Linked DNA regions of Homo sapiens. The protein of the gene in region 2 interacts with the protein of the main gene of each other region in a pairwise test. Each region holds a gene or a part of one and is shown on either strand. Other genes may lie near its edges. The genes, in order: CDCA7L, ABT1 and MAB21L3.

Region 1 (9,944 bases), on a different chromosome or scaffold from region 2:
CTCCCTCCAAACTGAAAGCGCTTGAAACGCCTCATGCCTAAAACAGAAAGGCAAGGAGGAATCACTGCACTTTTCTTTATTGCCTGCAGCAGAGATTAAAGCAGGGTCCTAACAAATGAGCTGCTTCTCAGCTCGGCTTGGATAAAAGACTCTCTCTGTGACCTCCAGCTTAGACCAGGGCTGCTTCTCAAAGTGTGATCTCAGGAGCAATGGCATCACCTGGGAAGCAGAGAGAAATGCAAGTTCTCAGCTGCCGCAGACCCACGGGGTCAGAACCAGCCCTGGGGTGACAGTGACGTGCGTTCACGTTTGGAGGGATGGTAGCTCAGACAAAAACTAATTCATGTATTAGTCAGAAAATACCCCAATTGTCTTCCTTCTTCGGAAGCTGTAAAACTCTTCCGCAAATTTAGCGGCTGAGACAGTGAAGTTCTCTAGAGCAAACTTCTCAGGAGGCCGCGCACTCCGGGTTGGGTTCATACGCCGCGTGATCTGTCCCTCCGAGAAGGCCCGCCTCACTGTCTTCTTCCTCTGAAATCAAGAGCACAGACAGAGACAACTGGGGACTCTCTCGAATAAAAGCCGTCTGGTGGCTGATCACCATATATCAGTATTGGTATAATTATAAGGAGTTCTACTTACAGAAGCTGAGGTTGGGGTTCGTACTGGGAAGAAATCTGGCATCGAGTTCAATTCCGCCAATAACTGGGCAAGCTGAAGTTCAGAACAAAAGAAAGAATCTTACAAAAATAGGGCTCCAGGTTTAGGTCATCCAACACCTATCTCAAGTCTTCCATTTTGCCACCATAAGAAACCTAACTTGAATAGTTTATATAACCCACAACAGTTATACTTTTAACCTCACATGTAAAGATTGTACCTCCAGACCTGAGATGCTGATGTCATCATTCATATGAATGAACACTAGCCTATTCCTTATATATAAGGACAACACAACACTATGAAAACAGTCCTGGAATGATCAAGACCTGGAGCATGAGGTTCCGATCCCGACTCGGAGGCTAATCCAAGGCGGTGTGACCCTGGGACAATTCATTTTGCACACGTGAGTCTCAAGTTTCAGGATGTTCAAAAAAGAAAAAGCTCAACTAGATTATTTCGATGGTTATTTAGAACTCCAAAAGTCTGATTCTTTAAATAGATTAATTTCTCATCAATCAAAGTAATCTATGAAGATATTCCTACGTGAACTAATAATACCAAATAATAGGCATTAATATGCCAGAGAATTTAATTAGGATTCGTTTTAGTTTATACAATTATATGAGTGCCACCAAAAAAATCATAAAGAAAATAGCTTATTTTAAAGATGCAGATGGATACAGTGCTGAAAATTTCCCTTAGCTAAGTAAAAATGTTTCTTAGGATAAAAATAATCCGAAAGTAGGCATTCCATTTTTGTAAGTAATTTATATTAGACATATAAGCTTGCATATACAGTATCACTGCATCATTCTTTTTTTAAAAGGAAAAGATTAAAAAATTACCAAAATGCTAAAAGGGATAAGTGGTAGAACTATTTAAAAAAAAACTGTAGATAAACAATTATGAAGCAAACAATGATTCTCTACAATGATCAGATTAACAGTAATTGATTATATACAGAAAAACCAAATATATGTAACAAAGATTTCACCTGGTTCCATTCATTGTTCTAATGAAGACAATGTAGAGTGAATTAACACTGTTGAGGTTGTTTTAATTCCTAGACCTCTTCCATTCCTTCAGAAGTCTCAGAACCAGTGCTGGTCACCATAGAAGAGTGGTTCTGTGGTGAAAAGCTACCTGCCCAACCTGCTCCTTGCAACTTCTCAGTGGACTTGGTGACATCCCACTTCCCCTGCTTTACTCTGCTGGGAACGGGCTAGTTGTTCAGCCCCTCTCATCCCCAACACAACTATATACTTAGAACTTAGCTTGGTCAACAGTAAGCAGCATTATGGCACCATGTAGGGGCTAAAAATGGTGCTGGGGAATCTCTTTCTGTTCCCAAACCAGAGCTGATCATGTAATAGTTGCTCTGGGTTCTGGAAAAGTAAAAGGATACACAATACCCAGAGTATATTTTCTTGACAGAAGCCAAAGCAACAGCAGCAGCTGTAGGAGCAAAGTGGTTCTGGGAGCCCAGCAACTGCTGCCAGAGCCTGGTGCCAACTCCCAGGACGCCCTCCGTGAAGCCTCACCATGGCTTTGTTCTCCTTGATGTTCATGGTCCTTTTCAGCAAAGCATCTGAACTCTCCTGGCTCTCATCCCGAGAGTCATCCTCAGACTCAGAGGTAGAATCTTCCCTTTGTATCACCTGTCTACAGTCTTTCTTTCTTTCAAGAATTGTTTTTTTCTCATTCTGTAAGCGTGCGCTAGAAAACAACTGCTCGGAAGAACTGTTTTTATCTGGTTTGTTGGCCAGCTTCTTGGTGGGGAACTGAAAGGCTACTCGAAGACCAATACTACTTCTTCTAGACCTGCTTCTTCTAGGGGTAGCCTTATCTTCTTCTTCATCTTCCTCTTCCTCGCTCACCAAAGATGCTTTGCCATCATCACTCAAATCTGACTCCACGACCTAATAAAATAAGAGCAAGAAAAAGCACAAAGACACTGTTACAGACCCACAAAAAAGACATGCATTTAAAACAACTGACAGCATTATGAGAAAAAACATGAAAAATGAAAAGCTTCCCCTTCATATTATGAGTTCCCTCTGAATTTCCTTTAAATGTGCAAGAAATTGGTTGATGAATAAAATCAGAGAGCAGGCAACCTACTACTGAACTGTGCACCATCATACCCGCGACAGAAATGGGTTCCATTCAGAGCATGAGGGCTGTAAGCAAAACACTGACAGGGTGGGTTCCTCCACCGTGGGACAACCAGGGAGCACCAGCAAGAGGAGAGACAGTCACAGAAAAGGAGAGACAGCAGCATGACAGATGTGATCTTCAGACAGGAAAGGACGCAACGGGGGAAAAATGCTGACTGGTCTCCTCTAAATAGCAGGAACCAGACTCCTGAATAACAGGGCGGGAGAGCTGACTGCACCTCAGGGCAGTGACCCAGGACAGGCAGATGACCTGCCACTGCGTCCTCAGTCAAGGGGCACCTTTCCCTTCTCTGGAACCCTCAGAGCCATGAGGTGAAACCAGGTCACAAAGCTCTACAGGTTGTAGCAAAACACCACTCAGTCAACTCAAGAAATCCTCACCCGACATTTTCAAATTCCACATGGCAGAGGTCTCCAGCATTCAAACATTGCTCTGTTTTACAAGTGAGAACACAGTAAATATGGAAGGCAGTAACAGGGATACATCACCTAGGTGACAGCTTGGATGTGACGGGACTCTTAGCAGTGGTACAGAGACAGGTTTAAGTATGTAAGATCTAGGACGTCTTCTGGGCATCCTTCCATGACCAGAAGCTAGAAAACTTTGGGAACCATTATCTGGGAATTCTGAAAATCTACCAAGAACACGGAATGGCACCGATACGGACCCAGGATCAGTTCAGGGACTCTGCTTCCTCCCCGGTGACGACCATCAACCCCAAACTCTCGTTGGACTAAAGTTAGAAATAAGACACAGGGAGAAAAAAAACGCAGATAACTGCCAACCCTGGTATATCCACACCAAGCCAAGTGAGGAGTAAGACTATATGGCACTGATTTATCTATTTTTTAATACCCTGAACTTCCCATATTAATAGCTTCAGAATTCAAAATGGTGTACTGCAAAGGAACCCAATTTCAGGGGACACTGTCAGGGAAGAACTTCAGTTTTGATCCATTTATCTACCATCCTCATCATCGACAGGCCTCTCTTTACCAGATGTGGAACAGCTCACTACAGAGGCCTGAAGGAAGGAAAGAACAAATGGTACACAGCAGCCCAGAATCAGACCCAAGAGAAGAGCACAAGTGTAGTACATGGATGTGGTTATTTCGCATCCGGCCAGCAGACCCCTGGAAACCAAGTTACAGCAATGTCCCATTATCAAGAAAGATAGGTTCGCCAGTTCCCACAGGGGTGGGCAGGAGGGTGGGCTGGGAGGCAACAATGCTTTTCTTCTCACTGGATTCTAAAATAAAATTTGCAAGGGCCTGTGCTGAACTGTAAGCTATATCATGATCTATGTAACTACATCACACAGTCCATAGACTTGGGGGCAGGTGGGAGGGAAGACTTCTGGGGTAATTCACTTTCTCTCACTAGAAATGCAAATGCTTCGAATAACCAGACATCACTTCACTAAAGAACAGAAAATAAGTACATTGCTAACTGATGATGCCCATTAGGGTTTTAGAAGCATCTTAATATCGTGCTGGCAAGAAGCTAGGGACTTGCTGGCCAGAACTGATGGAACTGCCACACAAACAGCTTCTGCAAAGAAAGCCAAAGGAGACCTGGGGCCTCCAGGCTGGCACAGCTCTATGTTGCTACTCATAGCAAAAAATCACTATCAAACGAAGCAGCCTACCATGCGGGCTTTTATGCTCTACATTCTCTCCTAGGACAAGTGAGGGACATGGCAGGCTAGGAGTCACGGCTTATTTATACCTCTACACAGTCTCTGCCAAAAGTTAGTCTTTAGCAGCTTCTGGCTGTGAAGAGGCGTAAACTCTACGTTCCATCTTCATACTGAAGAAGATAGTAGCATGTTTATTTTTTGCATAAATGTATGCTATTTTTAGCAGAAAACATTTCTGCACTTAAATCCGAAGGCTGTGCCTTAAAGTTACCTTCAGGTTCAAACACGAGTGGGCAGTAAACTAGCCTAACTGTGCAGGATAAAACAAACAAATAACTAACAAGTCTGTTCATAGGAAGTGCTGAGAGTAGACTTCCCTCCAGAATCCAGGCAGGCCTGGGTCATCTTTAACACTAAAAAGCATGACAAATCCAAATCCACAATGCATGGGGAACACCAAGTTTGTACCACAGCCAAATTTTTGCCAAATTAACTTCAAACCAAAAACTGTCACTTCACACACAGTAAGAAAGTATCTCAAGAAAGTTGTCATCTAAGATAAACTTTTAGATAAAAGAGGTTTAAGGAACTCTTGAGATAATTTTTTTTTTTTTTTTTTTTTTTTTTTTTTTTTTTTTTTTTGAGATGGAGTCTCGCTCTGTCACCCAGGCTGGAGTGCAGTGGCTCAATCTCAGCTCACTGCAACCTCTGCCTCCCGGCTTCAAGAAATCCTCCTGCCTCCGCCTCCCGAGTAGCTTGGATTACAGGTGCCCGCCACCACGCCCGGCTAATTTTTGTATTTTGAGGAGAGATGGGGTTTCACCATATCGGTGAGGCTGGTCTTGAACTCCTGACCTCAGGTCCACCCGCCTCGGCCTCCCAAAGTGCTGGGATTACAGGTATGAGCCACCGTGCCTGGCCAAGAGAGATAAATTCTTTGAGAAGGACAATAAAGGACGCCTGGGACACATCCCCAAAAACCCCCTAAGGCACGAGGAGAAGATGAATGGATTTTCTCTAAGAGAATAATGGACTGGTGGACCAGGGATTAGCCTTCCAGGAGCAATTTTTTTAGGTTATGTTAATTGCTTGTAAGATAAATATGTAAGAAAAATCTTTTCACTTGTGAAGTGACTGCTTACAAGTAAAACTCTTTCAGAAACAGGATTAAAAACGTTACCACCCACATCCCTTCCTGTTGTAATTATTACCATTACTTCTGGGTTAGTCTTTCCATTCAGATCACTCTGCGTAAATCCTGCAAAATCCTCAGTCTCTGAGTCAGTGTCCTCTATAAAAATTCTTCTTAGCTCTTCTGTGAAGTATTTGGAATGAAAGCGCACATCCTGCTAAATTAAAGACACACATACATCAGAGACGGAAAGTAGAATAGAGGTTACCAGGGAAGGGTAGAATGAGGAGCTACTGAACGGGTACAGAGCTTCTGATGGAGATGACGAAAATGGATGGACAACAATGTGAATGTACTTAATGCACTGAACTGTACACATCAAAAACAGCTGAAATGATATACTTCATGTTATGTGTATTTTACCACAAAAAAAAAAAAACACTGGCCGGGTACAGTGGCTCACCCTGTAATCCCAGCACTTTGGGAGACCGAGGCAGGCAGATCACTTGAACTCAGGAGTTCAAGACCAGCCTGAGCAACATAGTGAGACCTCATCTCTGCAAAAAATACAAAAATTAGCTGGGTCTGGTGGCATGTACCTGTAGTCCCAGCTACTTGGGAGGCTAAGGTGGGAGGATTACCCAACCCTGGGAGGTCGAGGCTGCAGTGAGCTGCACACCAATGCACTCCAGCCTGCGTTGCAGCCAAGATCACACCATTGCACTCCAGCCGGGTGACAGAGTGAGACCCTCTCTCAAAAAAACCCGCATACGTACACGTATATATTACATATATACACATTTTCTAAAGCTTACAAAATTCAGACCTACAAGACAGACAATTTTTAAAAATTGGGTGTAGTCTCAATCAGCTTCTAATGTGACTGGTAAGTGCTCATGGAATTCAGCTTCTCCTGCCAAAGCTGGCAACCAGACACGTCTGCTTTCACATAGAACCAAAACACATGGAAAGAAGATATGAGGAGAAAACCTGGCTCCCTCCCACGTGTTGGCTTCCCTTTCCAACAGCCTTTCAAAGCCGGAGTCTCCTCCAAGTGGGTGAGCATGCCTCCCATTCACCAACAGCGAGCTTCTCTGTAGGAAAAGGCTGGGGCCTCTCTCAGCCCCCACCGCCCACCACCAGAGAGCCTAGACTTGCTCCATGAGCAGACACCATGGGGGCCTGATGGAAAGCTCATTCAAGGTCACCCCCAGGAATTTCTCTCGTGCAGGAGGTGAGAGGTGAACAACCATGGCTAGGTGGCAAGTGAGCAGAAGGAAAGATGCAATGTGACTCTTTAAGAAAAGGCATTTTCTAATACTTTTTCTTTTGAAATAGTGCAAAGATGGAAACCCAACTCTCTTAATAGTATACTTGAAAGAAAGAGGAAATAACAAACTGCAGGCCAAAGGGAGACCCACGAGACCAGCCCCCTGCAAGCCCGCCACACCTCATCAAGACTAGAGTCTGTCCCCAGTTTCCTCTGACGTCTCTTCCCCCCATCTCTGATATAGCAATGACCCCTTGTAACACCACACTTGGCGGGGAATCTGTATCTACCCCACTGCGTTTCCCCGCCTTTAATTATATACTTCTTTGAGCTCATATATCTCTGGGGAAAGATAGATATAATAGACAAGTGGAAAAACTTACAGGGGCACACAGAAAGAAATGCCTACATCTAGCATTCTGTAAGCTTAAAAATGTCTCCTATGAATTATTATGGGTAATTGGAGTGAGTTTGCTCAGAGCTGAATTACTTTGTTCCTTTGTTGATAGCTGTAGTGCAGCTGCTTGAGAAAAAAAATTGCACACACAAAAGGGAAGTTTCTTTAAAGTGAAATTCAAATCGTGTTTAAGGGAGACCAGAGTTAGCATACACATACTGTGTGCAAGTTCATGCAGCTTCTCTCTATTGGTTAAAATGGATCATGAGCCTGTGGGGTCGGGGTAGAGAAGCAGCCAGGGCTTGATTATTAAGGAAGAATGGTACACAGCTGCTGCTAAGGAAACCCACCATGCACCTGAGGCCTCTCAGTGCAAGAAACATCTGGCTCACAGAGCCTTGGGCCAGCCCCTGCAGGCTAATTTAGAGTGGTATTTCTGTGTGCAAATTTCATCAACTACCTAAAGCCCCTGCCTAGGGCCTGAAGGGAACAGGGCAAGCCTTGAAGCTATGAGTTCCCATCTTCCAGTTTTTCTGGCTATTTTGATCCTGTGTGCTGGCCTCCCAGGGCAATGGGCATCTTGGGAGAGATTACCATCTTTGATGGTCAGTCCTGATAGAGAAAAACAACTTACCATTGTCCTGAACTGAGGCCTGTGCTTTAGTTTCCTTACTCCAAAGTGTGTAAGTACTGTTTTCCATGTGGGTCTGTATGATGCCAATCTCCACTCCACACTGCTCCACTGCATTCTGAGTTAGAAACCCTGGCACTGCTGATTGCTCTCTGGCACTGGTTCATTCATCTTCAAAATCAATACTGGGTGCTATGCTATAGGCCTTGGTCATCTACCATGATCAGGACCATAAGCAAATAACACATCAGAGGAGAAGCTAACATAGGTGGATAAACTTATTTTGAAGTCCATGTGACATGGAAGAAACAGACCAGAGAGCAATGGCCTGTTGAACCAGACAGCCAGACAAGCACCCCATTTCAACTGCACCCAGCAAACAACACCCCCCGTGCTCACTGTATACAGTCAGGTGGGGTGTTGGATGCTTGAAATCAGAGGAAAGGAACAATACATGAGGACGAAAAGTCAGAGCCAGGGAAGCTAGAAAGCACCATTCAAGTATGAGGTCTCCCCTTCTTAAGGAGTTTATAATCTAACAGGGAGGCAGACAGGTCCACGAATAACCCTGGTGAGGGTCAGTGCTCTAAGGGATACAAAGCAATATGGCACACGGAGGGAAAGAAAATCCAGTAAGACTTCATGGAAGAAGTAGCATAACTGGATGTGAGCCACGGTAGAGGCTAGAAAAATGGTGAGAGCACAGATAGGCAGGAACAGCATGGACCAGTGGGCAGAAAGGGCAGAACAGTGGATAATGAGAGTGTCAGTTCAGTTCCTGTGCCCTGCAGCATAGCAGGTAGGAAAGAGACCCGGCGGGGTAAGAGGCTGAGAAGTGGTGGCCCTGGATTTGGAACATCCCAGCTTGGTACTTCCCAGATGTGGGGCCTTGGGCAAGTCATTACACCTTCCTGAACGTCAGTTTCATCACTTGCAAAACTGCAGCTTCCCAGGGAGGTCTGTGGATTAAATGCAGTATCTGTATGAAAAGCAGTTGGCACACTGTCCTCCCTGGGGAGAACACACCTGACTACAAAAGGAGTCATCATAGCAGCAGAAGCAGCTGTTCTGTTTCTTAATGCCCGGTGCCTGCCAGGCTCTGTGCTCGGCCCTTTAGACATGTTCTGCCTTGCTCAAATGCTCCTCAAGGTGGATCCAACAGGCTCTGCTCTCCCCACCGCCTGACTGTGCTCAGATGGAGGGCTAAGGGAGGAGCTGACCGGAGGTCAATCCTATAACAGATCCTAGTAGGAAGGGATGAGCATTCGGGTAAGAGCTACGAGGGCTACGGCAGCTGCAGAGGGAAGGGAAGGATGGACACCAGGAACACAGCAGAAGTTTCATCAACTCCTGGACGGGAGTCAAGGAGATGGAAGAGGGGAGGGAAGGCCAAGAACAAAAGATGGAAATCAAGATGGGGAAAGGGGGAAGCCAGAAAGACAACCAAGGGAAGGAGAAGTGAGTTTCAGATCTCCCTTAGCAACCAGGACCAGTCCAACTGGTAGTCAGAAACCACCTGGGGCTGGAGAGAGAAGACAAGCTCCACAAAAGAATACAGTAACAGCTCAAAGCAGGACAACAGACAAGATTCACTAAGTGAGAAGACTGAAGACAAACCCTTAGAGAACATCTGCATTTAGGGACACGAACAGGGAAAACAAGTGACAGTAACAAAAAGCAGGCCAGGTACAGTGGCTCACGCCTCTAATTCCAGCACTTTCGGAGGCCAAGGCGGGCAGATCACCTGAGGTCGGGAGTTTGAGACCAGCCTGGCCAATATGGCAAAACCCCATCACTACTAAAAAAAAAAAAAAAAAAAAAAAACACACACACACACACAAATTAGCCAGGCGTGGTGGTGGGAGCCTGTAATCCCAGCTACTCGGGAGGCTGAGGCTGGGAAAATTGCTTGAACCCGGGAGGCAGAAGTTGCAGTGAGCCAAGATCATGCCACTGCACTCCAGCCTGGGTGACACAATGATACTCCATCTTGGAAAGAAAGAAAATAATAATAACAAAGAGCAAAAGGTGTAA
Region 2 (10,591 bases):
GTGATATAAGGGTCTAAGTTCACTTATTAGCACATGGATATTCAGGTTTTTTAGCATCATTTTGCAAAGATTATCGTTTTCCTGTAGAATTACCTTGGCACCTCTGTCAAAAATCAATTAATCATAATCATGTAAGTTTATCTCTAGACTCTATGTAGCTTTGTTGTAAGTCTTGAAATCAGGTAGTGTTCTTCCAACTTTGTTCTTCAAAATTAGTTTGGATATTTTGCATCTTTTGACTGTCTGTATACATTTTATACATTTTATATTTGGCTTGCCAATTTCTAAAAAAAATCATTGAGATTTTGATAGTCATGGCATTAAATGTATCAGTCAATTTGAAAGATGTGGAATTGATATCTGAAAATTGTTTAAATTTTCTGTTCTGGAAACAATGCATTGCTTTCATTGCATCTTGGTAAATTTATCTCTAAATGTTTCATATTTTTTATACTATTTCAAATGGTATTTTGTATTTCAATTTCTAACTATTTATTGTTAACAAATACAATCTATTAATAAATAGAATTACAATTTATTATATTTGTGTCCTGCAGTTTTGGTAAGCTTACTCATTAGTTGTAGTAGCTTTGTAGAAGTTTCCTCAGTATTTTCTCGTAGACAATAATGTTACATGCAAATAAAGATAGTCTCACTTTTTCCTTTTAATCTGTATTTTTTTCTTTCTCTTGTGTTATTGCACTGGCTAGAATCTCTAGGATAATGCTGAATAGAAGTTGTGAGAGTGGACATCCTTGCTCTGGACCTGATGTTAGGGCCAAAACATTTGAGTTTTTCATCACTAAATATATTAGCTGTTGAATTCTTAAATATGTCTTTTATACTTTGCAGAAATTCTAACAAATGTATCTGAATTTTGTCAATTGCTTTTTTCTACACCTACTGGAATAATCATATGGCTTTTCCTGTTTAGTCTGATAATAAAGTAATTACACTGATTACATTGATTTCAAAATTAAATTCTAAGCTACACTTTTCTTTTCTTCTTTAATTCTTTGAAAGTTACTCTTCCCATTTTTTAGATTAAGGTACAATTCACATACAGTAATGTCATCAGTTTTAATGTACATTCTCCTTAGTGTAGCAAATTTTGTCAAATATAGACAGTCGTGTTATCACCATTACAATCAAGATATGGAATAATAATATCACTCTACCCCCAAATTTCTGCATGTTTCTTCTTCTTTTCCTCCTCCTTCTTCTTCTTCTCCTTCTCCTTCTTCTTCTTCTTTTTTTTTTTTTTTTAATAGACAGGGTCATGCTCTGTTACCCAGGCTGGAGTGCAGTTCTTCCATCATAGCTTACTGCAGGCTGGAACTCCTGGGCTCAAGCCATTACAGGCATGACACCAGGCCTAGCCTCCCAGGAGGAAAGAAGAAAGAAGTTGTTTCTTCTTCTTCTTTCTTCCTTCTTTCTTTCTCCTCCTCTTCCTCCTCCTCCTCTCCTTCTCCTTCTTCTTCCTCTTCTTCTTTTTCTATTTTGTTCTTACTGAATCACTATGTTTCTTTTATACTTAATTTCTCCCCTATCTTCTACCCCAGTAGCAACTAAGGATATTTTCTGTCCCTATAGCTTTGCCCTTGCAAGAATTTCATAGGAATAATATAGTATGTAGCATTTTGTATCTGGCTTTGTAAATTCAGCATAATGCAGATGAGTTTCATCCCTGTTGTTACGTTTACCAATAGTTTGTTCCTTTTTATTCCATAGGAATATTATAGTGGTCTGTAAGCTTCAAGAGAAGTTAAAACCATCTAGGTAGGACTCAATTCGCAAGTTGAAAAGGTGCTAAAACAATAGAGAAGCTACAGGGTGAGATTGTAATCAAGTGATGATGATACATTTCCAAGAATTATTTCAGATAGTTAGATTTAGCCATAAACCCATTTTGAACTTGTGTCTGCAACAAGAGGGAATAAATAGAATGGCCGTTCTGACACCAGATTCTGTAAGAAGAGGAAGAAGGAAGTCTTCCCTCAAAGTGATACAGAAATCTAGTGCGGAAAGGTACTAATTACTTGTTCTTGTATTCCCAGGAGGCAAATATTGGGGATTATCAGGGGAAAGAGCATTTCAGGCAAATGAAATTCCAACTTTAACAGCCCTGAGGTGTGATTCTTATGCTAAGATTAGTTTATAGGTAAAGAAAATAATTGATGAGATTAGCTATTGGAGTTCTTCCTGATCAAAATCAACTCTATAGTACCGTGTCACTGAGAGTCAGGAGGCTCTGGGAGCTCCTGAGCATAGCAGTAACTGATGAGAAACATACTGAGCATTTTTTTCTGTATGTTTGCTGCCCCCTGTGAAAATTAGTGAAGCTTTTATTCGAGAAAGCATGTGAACTGAGATCCTGGGGTTTGGTGGTGAAATGGCAGGGTTGGTCAACTGCTTTCACATCTGGTGTCCAAGGCTCAGTTAGTACACTTCATATGGGCAGAGACCATCTCATAAGAATCTGCTCATTTCTCTTCTCTGGCTTCTCGTATTTTCCCCGACTAGGTTACATTATTGGAAAGGAATTTACCAGACCATATATTCTTAGTTTCTCATGGCAATGAATTGAATAACTGAATTAAATATTAGTTATGTTGCTGCAGATATTTCTCATGGGAAACGCTGGAGAGGATCTTTTGAAAAAAAAAACCGTATTTTTGTCAAGATTACAATTATGGAGAACTTTAACTGTAATAAGTGATGATCTTTTATAAATAAATTCACCAACACTCCTTTCCATAAATTTCACAATTTATAATTTCCATATACTTCTAATAATTTTATAAAAAAGAAAAGTCTCTCCAGATGCCTTCCCGTTCTTCCCATTGGTGTTCATTTCTGTTTTAGGCACGAGGAAGCTGAATACCATGATAGGTACTTATTAGCAAAGCATGACAGCATACCTTTGTGAAAACTGTCAGAATCAAAATGGAGTCACTATTGTTAAAACACACAAACACACAAAACAAACTAAAAACGCTAATTAATAGAGCTGGAAAAGGCCATGCTTGATAACAAAAACTATCACAAAAGACTGCAAAAACCACAATCTTGCACAGGCCATCACAATCTTACACAAAAAATACTTCTACAAGGACATCTGCCCCACAACTGCCTGTCCAACCTCGGACTAGCTTCCTCTTTGCTATCCATTTTTGTAGCAGACAATAATTACCTCAACACAGTTATATAATCCTTCTCATTTTTTCCCTTACAAATCTTTGTCGCTGAGCTCGGTGGCTCACGCCTGTAATCCCAGCACTTTATATTCTGGATCATGAGGTCAGGTGGGCGGATCATGAGGTCAGGAGTTCGAGACCAGCCTGGCCAATATGGTGAAACCCCGTCTCTACTAAAAATACAACAATTAGCCGGGCGTGGTGGCGGGCATCTGTAATTCCAGCTACTCCGGGAGGCTGAGGCAGGAGAATTGCTTGAACCCGGAAGGCGGAGGTTGCAGTGAGCCGAGATTGCGCCATTGCACTCCAGCCTGGGCGACAGAGCCAGACTCCAACTCAAAAACAAACAAACAAACACCTTTGTCTTCCTTTACCTCCCTGAATATACATAGTTTCCTATGGCACTCGTATTTTCATTGCAATGCTCTATTCCCAAATAAACATCATTTTCTTTCAGAGAGCTTCTCTTTGTTATTTAGGTTGACACCTGTAAATAGAATGCTATATTTCTTTTTTAAATTGTAGGGGGAGAGAGAAGTGTTGTGTTTCATTTACTTGTCCCATTACAATTGTGCAATATCATATGAGCCGCTCAATTCCTAAACATATGTACACACACAACGCACTTCTGTTTTGTGTCTCGAACACAAATTACAAATTATACAAATTGTGTAATTTTCCTTGCCCTTCAGAAAGGAGAATCTCAATGTTTCCGAAATGAACTGGGCAGTAACTTCGCTTCAAGGCGGTAGGTCCCCCCTCTTCAACCCAGTTGTCTAAAATAACCTTGTCTTTATTATTTACTTCCTATAGAGAGAGGAGGTGCTAAGCGGACAGGACAGCTGGACAACACGCGCAATAAGGGCAATGGTCCTATCTATTCTAAGGGAGGAGGACATGGAATATTGGTGTGGTTTTGTTTATTTTTTATTTTTTTGGACCTATGTGAAACATTTTTACAGTAAAACCCACAAATTTTAAATGTTCAAGAGAATTGTTCATATACTTGTATAGTCAGTATCCCTACTCAGATAAGAACATTTTAGAACATTTTGGAACATTTCTAATATCCTAGAAAATTTCCTCACGTTTCCCTATATTTTCAAAATGAACAAGAATACAGGATAGTCAAAAGCAATAGGTAAATCCTAAAGAATCCAAAACGAGGGTAATGACATCCTTCGATAGCTCAGCTGGTAGAGCGGAGGACTGTAGGGGTTTGAATGTGGTCATCCTTAGGTCGCTGGTTCGAATCCGGCTCGGAGGAGTTCCATTTTTAAAAGTGTCTCTTCTGGGCCTGAAATAAGGAAACTTGGAGAACGCATGTGCAGCTTGCTTATTCAGGAATTTGTAAGACGCTCAGAGAAGGAAAATAATCCACCCTGAAAATTGCTAACAAGGGTTGCTTCACAGACAGTTGAGTGGGACTCGATTTTCACCAAGTTGAGAAGGGATCATGAGGAATGTGGGGAACGGGAAGAACACGCTGCCCCAAGGCTTCATTTTTTTTTTTTTGTCGGTTTCACGGTCCTTTAGCACCCCCTGTTATATTGATACTTGGTGTGAATAAACATTTTATTAATGATAATTTCAAATATATACAAAGTAGAGAAAATAGCTAATAGCTACCATTAGCCACCACACTGGCACAACTTACCGACACTCTTGCATCCATCATGCCCCTCCCCTAGCTCCAGATCTTTTAAAGCCACCCCAACACGTGTTCTCATTTCATTAACTGTACTGTGTTTTGAAGATGTCAGTGTTTATAATTAAATAGCAGTAGACGGAGTTTATCGCTCTCATCGTACCCCGCTCCTCTTCAAAAAAGGAGCAGTGGACACCTACCTGACAGAAAGTTCTCTTCAATAAAGTTAATGAAACAGGCGTGTTTGAATTCGAGAAGTCTATTATTAGACTTTTAGACACTCCATGAAAGAGTGCAGGGCCCTGTTACTTTAGAAATATACTTGGGGACTGGCAAAAACTGTCATCTCTGATTTTAATAGTGGACACATTTACTCCCTGCTTCCATTCTCTGGGCTACTCTGCGCTCTTGGAGCGAGATGGGAAATTTTGTCAGGCCGCAGCAAGGACGGATTTATGTTGATAGTCATCAAACTCGCCCCGGGCTGCTTCCAGAAAGCTAACCGGATTACTTGTACGCGGTTCCCAGCACTGTCCTTTGCAGTCAGCTTGTCGCTGGCGCCGATGGGAAGAACTGAAACGCCTCAAGGGTGGGGACGGCGCCCCCTGCTGGTCGCGCCCTCGGGCGACGATAAGAGACTGAGGACCCGAGCCCGCGCGGGGAAAACTGCCCTGAGCTTGGCTTAGGGATGGTCCGCAGGCCGCCTGGTGGGAGCAGGACCGCCGTGGCCCGGTCCGTTCTGCGGTTGCGTAGGTCATAGAAGGAAAAGTGGTTTGTGATCTGATAGGGAATCTGAGGACAGACCCAGGGAGAGCAGAAATAAGCGCGCCGCCGGGGGGTCGCCAGAATTGGAGGCTTGTGCGCCTCTGACAAGTATTTGCAACATAAGTATGCATATGGATAATGTATCAATACACACGTGTAATAGATGCCAAACAAATTCTTCAAATAATTGTCACACATTTAAATTTTCAGACATTCACAAAATCAAATGTAAAATATTAAACTGAAAGTTCACAACTTAAATTTTCAAAAATTAAATCTAATTAAATTTCCAAAGTTGAACTGTTTTCAAAATTAAATTTTAAAATATTCAAAATTCCGAGGTAAATTTCCAGAAATAGTTAAAACCTCAAAACTCAAAATTTTTAAATGAAATTTATAAACTTTAAAAGGTGAGTCATTCCTCAGCTGGAATCGCACCCGGGGCCCTTGAATAAAATGCTATTTTGATCGCTAGAACACATAGAAACTTCTCTAAAATTGTTCTGCAAAATTCCCTAAAAAGCCGGCATCAACCCGCCTTTTAGCGTCTCGACAAGGCGTTCTATAGGGTAGGTTATATTTGGGGATCTGCCTTTTCTGGTTCTGCCTGTCCTGAGTTGGAGATCTGACCGGGAATCTGAGCCTAACCCAAGTTTCCCATCCCGCTTCCACGCTCTGAATCAGGCTTCCGACCTGACACACCACTTCCTCCCTCTCCCCTCGGCCTTCCCCTGGACCCGACTGTATTGCCCAATCATTTCCTTTCATTTGTCATCACCACCTTGGACCCGCCCCCTCGTCTCAGGCCGTCGCACGCGTTTTGCGTCAGTTGGCAAGGCACTTTACGGCCGTCGTGCCGCTCGTGTCAGTCAACATGGAGGCAGAGGAATCGGAGAAGGCCGCAACGGAGCAAGAGCCGCTGGAAGGGACAGAACAGACACTAGATGCGGAGGAGGAGCAGGAGGAATCCGAAGAAGCGGCCTGTGGCAGCAAGAAACGGGTAGTGCCAGGTATTGTGTACCTGGGCCATATCCCGCCGCGCTTCCGGCCCCTGCACGTCCGCAACCTTCTCAGCGCCTATGGCGAGGTCGGACGCGTCTTCTTTCAGGCTGAGGGTAAGTATGCAGGCCCTGACGGTGACAGGAGGAGGTTGTCGCTCGCTGGCGGGGTGCAAGCATGCATGTCCTGTTGCTTCGCTGCGCGAGGCTGAGGCACGAGTTGCTGGATTTTGGGGGTGGGGAGTGCGGTGCTTGGCTCCTGGCTGGTGAATCAGTCTGTGAGGATGCTGGGGTGGGCGGGCGGAGGGGATATGGGGAGAGTGGGTAGCGCAGTGTGTCTGGTGGTTCTTTAGTTCTCGGATTGTTACTATTTGTGTTCTTATCCCGGCTCTGTTCACCTCTCTTTCCGGACCTGTTTACTGGTTTGTTACATGAATACAACCTGAGTAAAAGTCTCGTCAGCTTTTCTACAAAACTGAACATAACTCTTTAGCATTGCTGCCTAGGTCAAGAAACTATTTGATCAACCGCCCCTCTTCTTTCCACCCTCAATTTTACATTGAGGCTGAGGACTTGTGCCGGTTTTAAGCAGCGTTCAGGGCTGGCCAGATTAAGGAGTGGACAATTAAGGAAAGAATTGAGTTAGCTAGAGGAAAGGGTGCGATTTACAGTTCCCTTCCTCCTGGGCAAAAACTCTTCAGGTGGGACTCCCACTGGCAGATGTGAAGAACGTTGCGGGCAGTGGGAGGTGCTTTTGAGTGAGTGCTGCATAGGCGTCCTGGACGGGTCTTTGTCTTTGGCGCGCAGACCGGTTCGTGAGACGCAAGAAGAAGGCAGCAGCAGCTGCCGGAGGAAAAAAGCGGTCCTACACCAAGGACTACACCGAGGGATGGGTGGAGTTCCGTGACAAGCGCATAGCCAAGCGCGTGGCGGCCAGTCTACACAACACGCCTATGGGTGCCCGCAGGCGCAGCCCCTTCCGTTATGATCTTTGGAACCTCAAGGTGAGAAGATAGATCTTTCTGCCACACCTCTCACCCTCCCTTCTCCCCAACTCTGGCCCAAGTATCCCCATGGCCTCTCATTGGCCTTGTCCCCTTGTCTCATCTTTCTCCCTAATCTGCACTATCCTGATCTTTTCTTCTTTTCTGCCCACAGTACTTGCACCGTTTCACCTGGTCCCACCTCAGCGAGCACCTCGCCTTTGAGCGCCAGGTGCGCAGGCAGCGCTTGAGAGCGGAGGTTGCTCAAGCCAAGCGTGAGACCGACTTCTATCTTCAAAGTGTGGAACGGGGACAACGCTTTCTTGCGGCCGATGGGGACCCTGCTCGCCCAGATGGCTCCTGGACATTTGCCCAGCGTCCTACTGAGCAGGAACTGAGGGCCCGTAAAGCAGCACGGCCAGGGGGACGTGAACGGGCTCGCCTGGCAACTGCCCAGGACAAGGCCCGCTCCAACAAAGGGCTCCTGGCCAGGATCTTTGGAGCCCCGCCACCCTCAGAGAGCATGGAGGGACCTTCCCTTGTCAGGGACTCCTGAGGGCCTGGGTGGCCCCTTCCATTTCCTGGCCCTGCTCTGCTTCCTGTCTACCTCATACTAGAATGATCGTGACTACCCGGGCAGACATTTTACTGTGTTTCTCAGACCAAGTGTCTACTGATGGCCCAAACATGGAGTTTTGTGGGCTTCCACTGTCCCCACTCCGAACTCCTGTATGTGCCTGGCTGAGTCACCTAATTCATACTGTCATACTAGCATAATTATGACTATTGCATATGCTTGTTTTGTTTGACTCTTGGCTGCCTACGTCTGTAGGGTCCCCTGAAAATCCCACTTCCTGCCCCCAGAAAGGGCCTTTATTTCCAACTAGGAGGATAATGCCTAGTCCAGGCAATCTTTCTCTGTTTAGCAGTCACAGGTGAGGGTGGTATTAGCATCTTTTTTATGTAGAAAAAATTGAGTTAATGGGGTGGACTGGGTTGGGAAGAAATACATTTCCTAATGTATTTATAGAAAATAAAAATATTTTTATGTGCCTTTTTATTTTTGTTGGTGGGGAGGTCATTGGACAAGTTCCAACTTTCATCTTGTGTTCCCTTCACCTTCATATCCTGATCTTAGAGCCCCCCTCCCCCTGCCACCCACCTTACTGTTTAACCTGGATTTTTTTTTCTATTTAATTTTTGTCTAATATCTTAGCCCAGTTTATCAATCAGTTATCTTAAGTCAGCATTTTCTAAGCCATTGTTTGAGGAAACAGTGACAATAGGTAATAACACATCTTAGTATTAAGAGTTTTACAGGCCACTAGTATAAGATAGGCATCGTGGTAGATGCATATAAAGGGTGGAATGGGAGCCATGGCAGGTCATAGAGTCCTCTCAATGGGAACCTGATTGATGATCACAGTCTTCAGTGGTGAGTCAGTCCTCACCAAGTTTTCCAGATCATTCCTACAAAGTAAACTGGGAGAATAATAAGTCTGAAAGAGTGTGGAGTGCTCCCACAATTACAAAGAATGCTTCCTGGGTGGAGTGTTGAGTTGGAACCATTGTAAAGGTGGGCAAAGCCTAGTAGAGAACCAGTGCACCTCAGGTGCACTTACATATGGTGGGGCTGAGGCAAAGCAGCCCTGTAGGCTTCAAAGAATCAGTGTAAGCCACTAAAAGGAACTGAAAACCTAGGTGTCACAATAAACAGTCTACACAGTCTCACGTAGACCAAAATTCTGATCATTTTCCAGGCTGTTGCATGAAGTGATAGAGTATGATTATAATTTCTGTTTGCTTGTGCTGTTTGTTTTTGTTTTTCATCTGTCAATGTGATGATCTGTGTTTTATAGGGTAGAGTGGATTTGTCTACTTTGGCTGTAAAATACCCTAATCACATTATGATCTTGACAGGTGCACTTTACTGGGGAGAATAAAAAGGACCATACGGTAAAGCTGGTATAACATTTCTCACAACCCACATACCTCTTATACTTGGCACACAAACTACGTTTCCATTTAGAAACTTTCGTCTTGTTTCTGTTTTTAATTCTTGTGGGTTTGTTTCATGTGAATTGTTTCCTCAGATCATTGATGTCTTAAAGTGAAACAGAAAAATCCAGAATCAGAATTTGACAGGCTGGCATATTCATTTATTCAGAATTCCAAGTGCCCATTGCTACTTCTGCTAGATAAAGAGATACCAAGGTGAAGAAGAAACTTTCCCTCTAGTTGCTAACAGCTTAGAAAGTACAGTAGACATACTGGGGTTTTATTTAAGACTTTCTTGAATGAAGAAATAAATTGCATTCCCACGGTGGACAGCGTTAGATAACAGTATGTTCAAGGGCTGGTATTTCAGGGTCCATCTCCAAAACAGTTCTGTACAAAGAGCTCACACCTGCGGCCAGGCAAGCTAAGTAAGTCACAGGTGGAGTGAGGAATGAGAATAAATGGGTGGAAGAAAATATCCTAGGAACTTTCATCTTGACTTTAAGCCCATTGAGTGTAGGAAAATAATTTTTTACATCCACAATTTTGTTTCTATTTAAACAGCACTTGTTTTTTTATATGAAGTAACTCATTTAATCCACAACTATATAATATTGTTATCCCCCCATTAAAACTGAGCTCAGAGAGATGACTCAATTTGCCTCTTAATATTTTATCCTTTGTTCCTCACCTTTTCCCCAGCTTTTCCCAGTGTGCATATGGTGAATGCTTATTACAGGAAATTCATGAGAAATGCACATGTTATAGACTAGAGAATGAAGTGTACCTGCCAATATGAGTGGATTTATTTTATCTAGCACCAAGAGTAGCAAACTGAGTAATAATTCTCAGTCATGATCCTGTGGTTGTAGTGTATACTCTGATTCAACTTAGTTTCACTCCTGACTGAGAAGCTGGGACTCTGCATTTGATGGCAATGGAGTGGGCTGATTTCTTTCCAAATAAGTTGAGGTGGGACTCCTGGTAGAGTAAGAGGGCTTT
Region 3 (9,944 bases), on a different chromosome or scaffold from region 2:
GATTTTGATCTAAGTTAAAAGCAATTTTATATGCTATGCTGTAGCTATTTTCAAAACTTAATATGTGAGACATGACATATATAAATGCAAGATATATTTTAAGCTATGAATTCTAAGTGGGACCACTGAAGGAAATTTCCTTGGGTATAGTGCTAAGAAAAGTAATGTAATATCTCTATTTCTAGTCACTGGTCTATGTGTGTCCAAGTTAGATTGGCTTGGGTGGTAGAGTTGGGCAAGTGATATTCTAGCATTCCAGGATTCAGTCTGGTTTTATAATTTTCACCCTGGGATTAATTTCCTACAATCTGAGTCTGTTTCAGAATCCACAAATCCCAGAATCTCTTAGGTGGTTCCTGCGTCCACCAACCTTGAGATGTAATGGGCCAGCAATGGTCTTTTGCTCAGGTACTAATTCTTTTACTCATTCATTTATTCATTCATTCCACATATGTTAAGTGTCTACCATGTGCCACATACCATGCTGGGTGCTAGGAACAAAACGAATAGTAAACTTGGTCCTTACAATCGAGGGATGTGCAGTCTGTTGTGAGAAATGGGCCATGAATACATACAAATTTAATACAAAGTGAAAGAGGTAGGTGGCATAATAAAAATCGAGATAAAGAATAATGGAGATTCAGAATGATTCAGGATCTCACTTCTCTTACCTCTAAAATGGAAATGAACAGATTGTCTTTTCCACAAGGTGGTTTACAGGTTTAAGTAAGGTCGTTTCTCTGTGTACAGCTCTGCCCTCACTACTGTGTTGCCTGAATGCTGGTGTTACCCATTGGCTTACACTGGGTGGGATTCTTTAGCAGGGAGAGGGGTTGCCAGTCTGCTCCTGCAGCTTCTCAGTGGCACCTCTTCTACTTTCTTCCTTCCCCATCTGCAACCCACAGACTGACTTTCAACTGTCTTCTTATGGATGCCCTCAGTTCCCTCCACCCCACCCCCAATCTATTAAGTAGGTGCTTAATAAATGAATGTGTATTTAACTGAGCTTTGATTGTGACAGCGGAATGTGCTTTGGAATCAAAAGCCTCTGTGTGAGTTCTGGCTTTAGTGCCTGATATGACTTGATCAAGTCATTTGACTTCTCTGAGCCTAGTTTTTCTCATCTAGGAATGTGGGGGCTCAAAGGAAATAACATCTATCTTTTTTTCTTTTTCTATAGAGACAGAATCTCACTACATTGCCCAGGCTGGTCTCAAACTCTTGGCCTCAAGCCATCCTCCCACCTTGGCCTCCCAAAGAGCTGGGATTATAGGCATAAGGCACCCTGCTGGCTGAAATGACATGTATAAAATGAGACTGTAAATAGTAAAAACTAAGAATACCTATGAAAACAAGAATTGTTATGAGTATTCTGAGTGAGGCAAGCATCTGTCACACACTGAGATTCACCTGCCCAAGTGTCCTGGCTCTGTTGGTGGCACTTAGAGACAGCAAGACTTGCTTACCTTAATATTTTCATTGTACGTGTCAGAGTAAGGCACAGCTTGAAATCTAATGTCTTGGTTGCTGATGTTTGTGGTCAAATGATGAACGACTTTCTGCACCTCCTCCACAGCCTGGGAAATCTGCTGGCGCCTCAAGTCCACCTGGGTGTGAGAGGGACCAGCAATGGTGGTTATTTCCTCTGTGGGCCCCAAGATACCAGCATAAGAGAGTGAGGAGACAAGGGTACAGCAAGGGGTGACTGAGGGAGTTCAGCTCAAAAATCCTGCCTTCCCAAGATGCCGGGGAGATGAATTTAGGTCTGACTCCATTGAGAAGACACTTGGTGGTGCCTCAATGTTCTTTTCTGTAACAGATGCATTCATTTGATATTTATCTAGGACCTACTATGTAGCAGGTGCCAGGCTGGGTGCTGGGGACACAACAGTGATTAAGACAACAGTGAACAATGTAGATACTTGCCCTCTAGCTGAAAATATAGGAATAAATGTAGATATAATACATACTATATTATATATAATTGTAATGTATAATATCAATATTATAATATATAGTGTCATATCTGATATTATACACACAGACACACATATAAATGTGTATATATATGTATTCCTGTATATATATATGTGTGTGTGTGTGTGTTTGTGTGTGTGTGTGTGTGTGTGTGTGTGTATAATGTAATATCAAGTATGATAAGTCCCATGAAGAAAAATAAAATATGATAAGGGACTAGAGAATAAAGGGGCAGCTATTTTAGTTAGGGTGGGCAATGGACAAAGAAGACTTCTCTAAAGAGGTGACATTTGAGTGAGGCTGAAGACAGCTTAGGAGAGCAGATTCCATGTTCCTCCTCTGACGTAGGCAATGCTCTAAGGCTAGCAGTGAGGCCATTGTGGTTGGATCTGGCAAAAGGAAAGTGATAGGAGGTGAGTTTGGAAAGGAAAGCAGGGACCAGATCATCACACAGGGTTTTGTGAACCATGGTGAGACTCTACCATGGTATTGTCACGCCTGCTGCCCATGGTGTGAATATTAAACCACTTAACTTGTATCAGCACCCAGCAGCCTGCTTCCCACTGATGTCATCAGTAAATGATGGTTCTCTTTGCCTCCGTACTCACCCCTGCCTTTTGCTTCTAGACCCTTAAGAAAAGGCATGTTTCTGCTGACAGAAAGTTACCACAGTGAGTTATGAAGAATTGGGAAATTCTCATAGAAAACTCAACACTAATCAGATACTTAAAGTTTAGGGAAATAGATGTTTGTGGGAAACACAAAGGAACTTTTAGTAAACTCCAGAAGAGACACAGAAAAATCCAAATAAGATACGGAAGGGTCTGCAAGTTTTTTCTGAAATGGAGGGGGCACTTTGTCATCTTGCTCAGGAGGCACCTACAAGCTGCTGTCATGACAGCAAGACTCTCCTTCAGAGGCTCCTTCAGCCAGGGGCCAGTTTCAAGCAATATCTGATACATCTCAATCTAATGCCCATCTATGAATCTTTATACTCTCTCTGAATTTGGTATAATGGCTGTTTCTACATATTCTAGAGTCATTTTGAGACACCCATAAACTGATCACGACAGCCAGAAAAAAAAAGTCCAAGTCAAAGAGATTCCTGTTTTCCTAAACTAAGTCATCAACTAGGCCAGTCACCTGAGACCTCACTCATACTTCTCATCAACCAGCAAGCCAACTTCATATGTTCATAGTATAAGAATGTGACTGTGCACCTATTGTTAGACACGTTGTATATCACATATAGGGTCAGTTCATCAGTAAGTATTTGTTTAGCATGTCCTCTGTGGTGGGCACTGTTACATGCTGGAACACAGCAATGCACAAGATAGACCCGGCCATGCATTCACAGTAGTGAGGAAGACAAATGTAAGCACAGAATACAATTGTGGGATGCTATTATGGGAAAAATAACAAATGACAAAAATAAAGGTTTTAGAAGCCAAAACTTAAGGGTCCTCTCCAGCATAGGACTTCCCATCTGTGTTGTGATTCAATTCCATTTGAGTAATTTGAGTGGAACATCCATTTTATGCTGTGCTTTGTGCATACATGTTGCCACGAGGTTTATAGATAACTTGACAAAGCAAGACAGATGACCTGGAAATTAAAATCACTGCAATCTAGTGCAAGGTAGAGGTTTGCACAGATGCTATGGATACATAGAAAACGGATACTTCATCCAGTTTGGAGGTTGGGAGGCCTTTCTGGAGGCACAGTGTGTTGGAGTTGTATCTTGAAAGCTTACTAGGCGTTAGCTAGGAAAAAGGGGGCATGAAAGTTGTTCTAGAATGAGAAAATAGCAGGTATTGAGCCAGGCCTGAGGCGCACAAAGAGAGAATTTGTGCTCCTCATGCCTGTGCAATTGTTCCTGTGATATTTTTAGAACACAATTGCCCTAGAAGAGGTGGTGAAGTGGGAGAATAAACCGTGAGAGGTCCTGAAAGTAAAGGAAGAATTTCAAGAACAAAGTCAACAGTAAGTGCTTGAGTGAGTTAAGGCCCCCAAATGTCCATGGAGTCTGACAGCTAGAATAGGATTGCTGCATTGGGGGAACACTGGGCACTAGCATTAATGGTGGGGAAGAGGTGCACATTAAATGTGGATTAAGGGTGAATGGAAGAAAACCAAGTGAAGACAGAGGTAAGCAACTCCTCCAAGAATTTTTTTTTTTTTTTGATGGATTCTCGCTCTGTCGCCAGGCTGGAGTGCAGTGGTGTGACCTTGGCTCACTGCAAACTCTGCCTCCTCGGTTCAAGTGATTGTCCTGCCTCAGCCTCCCGAGTAGCTGGGACTACAGGCACGTGCCACCACACCTGGCTAATTTTTGTATTTTTAGTAGAGACGGGGTTTCACCATGTTAGCTAGGATGGTGTCAATCTCCTGACCTCTTGCTGTGCCCACCTTGGCCTCCCAAAGTGCTGGGATTACAGGTGTGAGCCACCGTGCCTGGCCCCAAGAACTTTTACCATGGGGAAAACCAAAACAACAGGGATGCGAACAGTTTTTTTTTTCCTTGCAAAATGACACACAGGTGTAAACATGTTTAAATGCTGAGAGAAAAGAGTCAGTGGTGAAAGAAGAGGTAGCAGAGAGCAAAACCAGTTTGTAAGGATTTCCCACCCAAAAGGAGTCATGCACATCCAGAGGCCTGAGTGAGGAATTCATCTTGGTGTGGCAGAAAGAAAGAAGGGGAAAAGGGTGCATGCAGATACAGATAAAAGGGTAGGGGGCAGTGAAAATCAGAGAGATTTCCAGTCTGACGTCTATGTTCTTTATAGAGTGGGAGATGTTAATGAGCTAAGAGTGAAGTGGAAGGCAAGAGATTTCAGGCGATAGACTGCTGAGATAGCTGCTATAAGGAATGAGAGACTGTTTAGGTGCATGAGTAAAGATAACCAGACAGTGTCAAGACTTGGCTGAGGCTGAGTCCCTGAGGCTGTGGGATATCAGTAAGTTCAGTTAGTGAGATCTGCTCCACCACCTCTTAGCCCTCCAAAGGTAAGAGTTGAGGTGCTAAGATTGGAGTTTGCTGGGCAAGAGATGGATAAAGATAAAAAAGCAACAGAGGGTTTCAGCAGTGGGCTATATCTTCCAGCCGGAATAAAGAACGGATAAAGCTAGTGGTAGAATAGGGAACATTAGGCCACTTCAGGGACCTGAAGTCTGAGCAGGTACAGTGGAGAAAAGTAATAAAAGTGTTAATTAGATAGAACATTGCAGGCAGAGTGGTTGAGAAATAGTATTCTCTAATAGTTAAGTTCTCAGAACGTGTTGAAGGCCAAGACTAGCCTCCTGAATCTGCCAGCCCCACGGATGTAATTCCATAGAACTTGAATGTTAGTAACATAGCAGTGACTATACATATATATATATATATATATATATATATATGTATGTATATTTTGATTCCTGAGTTAATAAACTAATGAAAAATTCATCACCATCAAATCATTTTTAAATAGAAGCTTAAGAGTGTGTGTGCATGTGTGTATGTATGTACATGTGTGTATGTATGCACATAACACACGTGAAGAGTAGCCTATTGGAAAAAGTACTTCATTGTAAATCTATTCTACAAATTGTGCCCTCATTTGATGGTGAAATTCTTACCGAGCAGGACAAGATCACGCACTCCTGGAAAACAACTATAATCTCTCACTTGTTACACAGGTTATTAGTTCACCCTTATGACCTGTTTTGATTACCAAAGGTGAAAGTCAGAATAAGATAATGCTTTTTGAGACCTAGAACCACAAATTCCAGTTTTAATTTTCTTCCTCCATCACTTCTGCTGCAACTTAGATTCAGGATCTTAGAAATGGAAGAGACCTCAGAAATTGCCTCGTCTGGTGTGACTTTATGGAGGACCAGAGTGACAAGGCAGCTTTCCTAACATCACACCGGCAGTTAGATGTAGAATTAGACAGGCTCTCCAACACTTCTTTCCATCACACTTTGCCACACCCTTAAGTACTGATGTACCAGAAGTACGGCCTACCCTTTATCCTCTTCCTGAACCTAAAAATGCCTTCAATTTAAAGTCAAGACTCATGAAATAAGGAGTCCTAGGTCTCCATGTATTTAGGCATCAGCAACTGTTCTGGCATCTAACAAGCACAAAGGGTCATGCAGCAAGGGCCAGACAGTGATGCTCCTGCTGTGGGACCTGAGCAGAAGCCTCTTTCTCTAGGTGGCGGGCAGCCTTGTCCCTCCCCACATCTCTGGCTACACTTCCTGCAATAAGTTCTTACCCACACAGCATCACCGTGCTATTTGGTAGCCCCAGAAGTGATTTGTGCTGGGGGTTTCCAGGCTTAGTGCCAGACACCTCTTGTCACCCTCATGGTGTGACAACACAGAACCCCCAGACTGTTTCTCTCCACTTATTCTGGCCACACCCTAGACAGATACAGCAAGAAGTTCATTTCAGGGTGTGGAAAAGCAGGCAGTGGGGTTGGGGCAGCTGTACAGTGATCTAAAGAAGGAGGCTCTAACACAAGTAGACACCCATTGCAAGCCCAACCCTGGAAATCCTTTACTGCCTCTCAAACTTTAGGAAGCCAGCAAGATACCAGTTGCAGCTTCAAGGCAGCCTTGAGGCAACCTTGTCACCAAACTTAGTTCATGGCAAAACATGGAAACAAATGTTGTTTGGGCCTTGCTCTTCCCAGGCATGTCTCCATGCTGTCAAGGTCCTTGTCCCATCTTGGGCTGCTTTCCCCTCCTCCTCCTTAACCACAGCATCAGGTTCATTGTTGCCCCACAAGTCATTTGCTGCTATTAATAGCTCAAGTTCATGAATAATTTACTGCTTCAAATATAAATTATGGGGATTTAAGGTTATCCCCTATAATAATATCACTCTGACTCACTTGCATTCCGATACGCTTCCTTGCAATGGAGACAGAGTGGTGGTGCTAAGTAGCATGCCAGGAATGTCACACAGGCCTGATCACACCCATGACCATGCAGACTATGTGTATGTCATTCCCAATGAGTGTTACTGAGAAGAAAAGGCTGAGGACTTCCTTCCAGAAAACAAGAAGTCAGACCTTTAATTCCAGAATTGCATGAAATCCAATCATCAGTTAGAAAAATTTCAACAAAACAAAAACTGGCATCATCTCTGTCTTTCAGGGGCTAATAATGTAAAGAAATGGAAAGTTAAATCCAGTGATAGATACGCACGAGACCATAGGCTTTCCACCATCATATCCCTTCCTTTGTAGACTAATTCTTCCATGAATCAAATGCTTGGGTCACGCAGAATATTTGCAGCCCCCAAATGTAGCAGAAGCTGTAGCAGCAGCATTACCGTGAAACTAAGATTATTTAGTCCTTCCTGTGTGCAAGGCATTTTATAAGAGTAGGCTCATTCCTGCCTACCCATCATTCTTTAAGGTGGATGCTATGATTATCCCCATTTTATAGATGAGGAAACCAAAGTTCAGAATATTTAAGTAATTTGCCCAGGTTCCCAAAGTTAGTAAGTTACAGAACACAGGTAGCAGCCTTCCAAAGCCCATATTTGTAACCACTGCCCTGTTCTGCTCCCCAAAAGAAAAAGGTGACTGGGAATGAAATACACCTTGAATGTTTGAACGGGGTTCCCTTAGCCTGGAAGACCTTTCCTATACTTCTCCACTTATTAAAACCCTACACTTCCTCCAAGGCTTTGTCTCTACTCTTCTTTCTGTAAGACACCTTTCCCATCACAACTAATGCACCGTGCTCCTCCAGCAATCTGTTGAAATCTCTACTGCATCCCTTACGGTCTACCATGCATTCTATTAAGCACTTGCCTGACTGCATGTGAAATTCCCTCCTTCTTCCTTTGGGGTTATGTACAAAATCTGCAGATGGGACAGGGCTATCCTAGAGACCAAAACCAAAATTTCTCTTTCATTTAGCAGGCCACATCTCAGGCCTTGGTCTACCCTCAAACCGTAGCACAGTATTTTGCACAAAGCAGGTGCTTAGTATGTGTTTGCAGAGATATAGAGGAGTTTGGCAGAGGACGTTCGGCCTTTGGAGTAAAGAAGACAAGGCTGAAACTTCAGTACCCTCTCAATTTAGCTGTGTAACTTTGGACAAGTTATTTAATCTCCACAAGCCTCTGTTTCCTCCTCTAAAAATGGAGGCAATATGTACATCACATAGTTGTTGATTAGGTTAAATGAGATCCTGTATGCACCTTGACCTGTCGCCTTCCACACCACTCTTGCCTTTAACGAACTCTAAAGATATTTCTGATCATATATGTGCAAGATACTCTGAATGTCAAAGGAAAGAAAGGTATGCAAGACACTGTTCTTCCCTCCAGAAACTTATAAAGAATGAAATGATATGACATGTAAGTTGCCAACCAAGATGATAATAGAAAAGTGTCAGGAGTTAATATACAAACTCATGATCAAATAAATGGTGCCAGTAATACTAATTATAACGGGAGTGAATATGTGGGCAAAATCATTTTGTGCTGGGGTGTCAGGGACTCTTTCTTGAGAAAGTGGACTCTGAGTTTGAAGGATGAATATGAGCCAGAAAAGTGGCGAGGAGGAGCTGGGGCCCTTGGCCTGCTCAGGGCCCAGTTCTTGTTGGGCAGAAATGGGAGACTCAACCACCTACAGGAATGGAGTAGGGGACACACGTGAGAGAGGCAGCGGGGACCAGGAGCAAGTGTCAGACACAGGATCAGCCTCCTGAGAATTGGCCAGCACGTGCTCTGGCTAGCAAACACTCAGCCCCAGCACACAGTTTCCAGGCAAGAAACTGGGACCTGTAGTTGCGAAATATTCTGATTTTTTTCCCCTGGAAAGACAGAAATCTGGATTTCTATGCAAAATCTATTTTGAAATGTTTGTGAAAAACATTAGAAATAATCTACAGGCCAAACAAAACATGAGCACACACTGGATTCAACGTGTCGAACACTGTTTAGGATTTCTGCTATTGGAAATGCAGGGGGAGCGGAGGGTAGAAAGATAGAGCAGTTGAAGTTACTTGAACACCACACTAAAAAGTTTGGAGTTTTTTCTTACAAAAAATACAGGACCCACGAAAAAAATGCCAGCCAATATCTCTTCCACTTAGAGCCCTCAAAGGGAGGAATTAATGGGAAATCACTTTGTTTACTCTAGTTTTTATCATCCCAGGTTTTCCTTATTTATCTCTCTTAATGGTTTTGCCTAAGAAATACATTTTACTTATCACTATGATAATGATCTTCTCTTTCGAACTTGTAAAGGCATGAAAACTGCAGACCAGTGCCTACTTCTTAGTCAATTTAAATATTTTGGTTTTAACATTAACATCATGCCTTAGTAGCTTCATCCGTAAATGAAAAGGCTTAAACTAGGTAATATTTAAGTTTCCTTCAAGTTCTAACATTTGACATGACCATCTAGACCATCTAGAAGAAATTAAGTTCTTAACTGATGTGTACTAAAAATATAATAATATTTAAAAACCTAGTACTTTCACAGTCTTTAAAAAGCTTTGTTTTAATTTCATTAGCTCTTTTTCCATTACCCCATGAAGCTCCTATTATTATTCCCATTTTACAGAGAAGAAGGCCAAGGCTCAGGCAGGTTAAGTGACTCACAACCACACGAGTGTCAGTGGCAGAGCTGGAGTTCCCCCTCATTCCCCAGATTCCTACTCTCCATTCTATATTCTATACTCAGCATGTCTCTGGGTACCAGACCCTCAAAGAGAAGTAAGGCTGATATATGTTAAGCCCCCAAACATTGTTATAGGTGACAGTCTGTTTTCTGAGGAGCATTTTATGTGTCTTTAGAAAGAGCCTGAGATCCTTTCTGGACGAAGGTTTGTTTGGAAGTAGTGTGAATGGGGAGGGGGTTCATGGGAGAGACCGGGTCTGTCCTTACCTTATTCAGTAGGCAATCTTCTAAGTCTCCCACAGTAAGGTATTTCATGGCTTCTTGGTCAGTCCTCAG

What was found.
Region 1: the proteins of ABT1 (region 2) and CDCA7L interact in binary tests that used the Homo sapiens proteins (3 or more experiments, as listed by UniProt).
Region 3: the proteins of ABT1 (region 2) and MAB21L3 interact in binary tests that used the Homo sapiens proteins (3 or more experiments, as listed by UniProt).

Annotation. Positions count from the first base shown.
Region 1 is NC_000007.14:21,905,926-21,915,869, forward strand, and holds part of CDCA7L (cell division cycle-associated 7-like protein), read right to left. Parts: intron 5,830-9,944; coding exon 5,692-5,829; intron 2,583-5,691; coding exon 2,205-2,582; intron 715-2,204; coding exon 643-714; intron 532-642; coding exon 364-531; intron 1-363. UniProt on the Homo sapiens protein: Plays a role in transcriptional regulation as a repressor that inhibits monoamine oxidase A (MAOA) activity and gene expression by binding to the promoter.
Region 2 is NC_000006.12:26,590,499-26,601,089, forward strand, and holds ABT1 (activator of basal transcription 1), read left to right. Parts: upstream 1-6,454; 5' UTR 6,455-6,484; coding exon 6,485-6,725; intron 6,726-7,415; coding exon 7,416-7,612; intron 7,613-7,766; coding exon 7,767-8,147; 3' UTR 8,148-10,241; downstream 10,242-10,591.
Region 3 is NC_000001.11:116,112,595-116,122,538, reverse strand, and holds part of MAB21L3 (protein mab-21-like 3), read right to left. Parts: 5' UTR 9,924-9,944; coding exon 9,876-9,923; intron 1,608-9,875; coding exon 1,467-1,607; intron 1,220-1,466; exon of another isoform or gene 1,181-1,219; intron 409-1,180; exon of another isoform or gene 324-408; intron 1-323.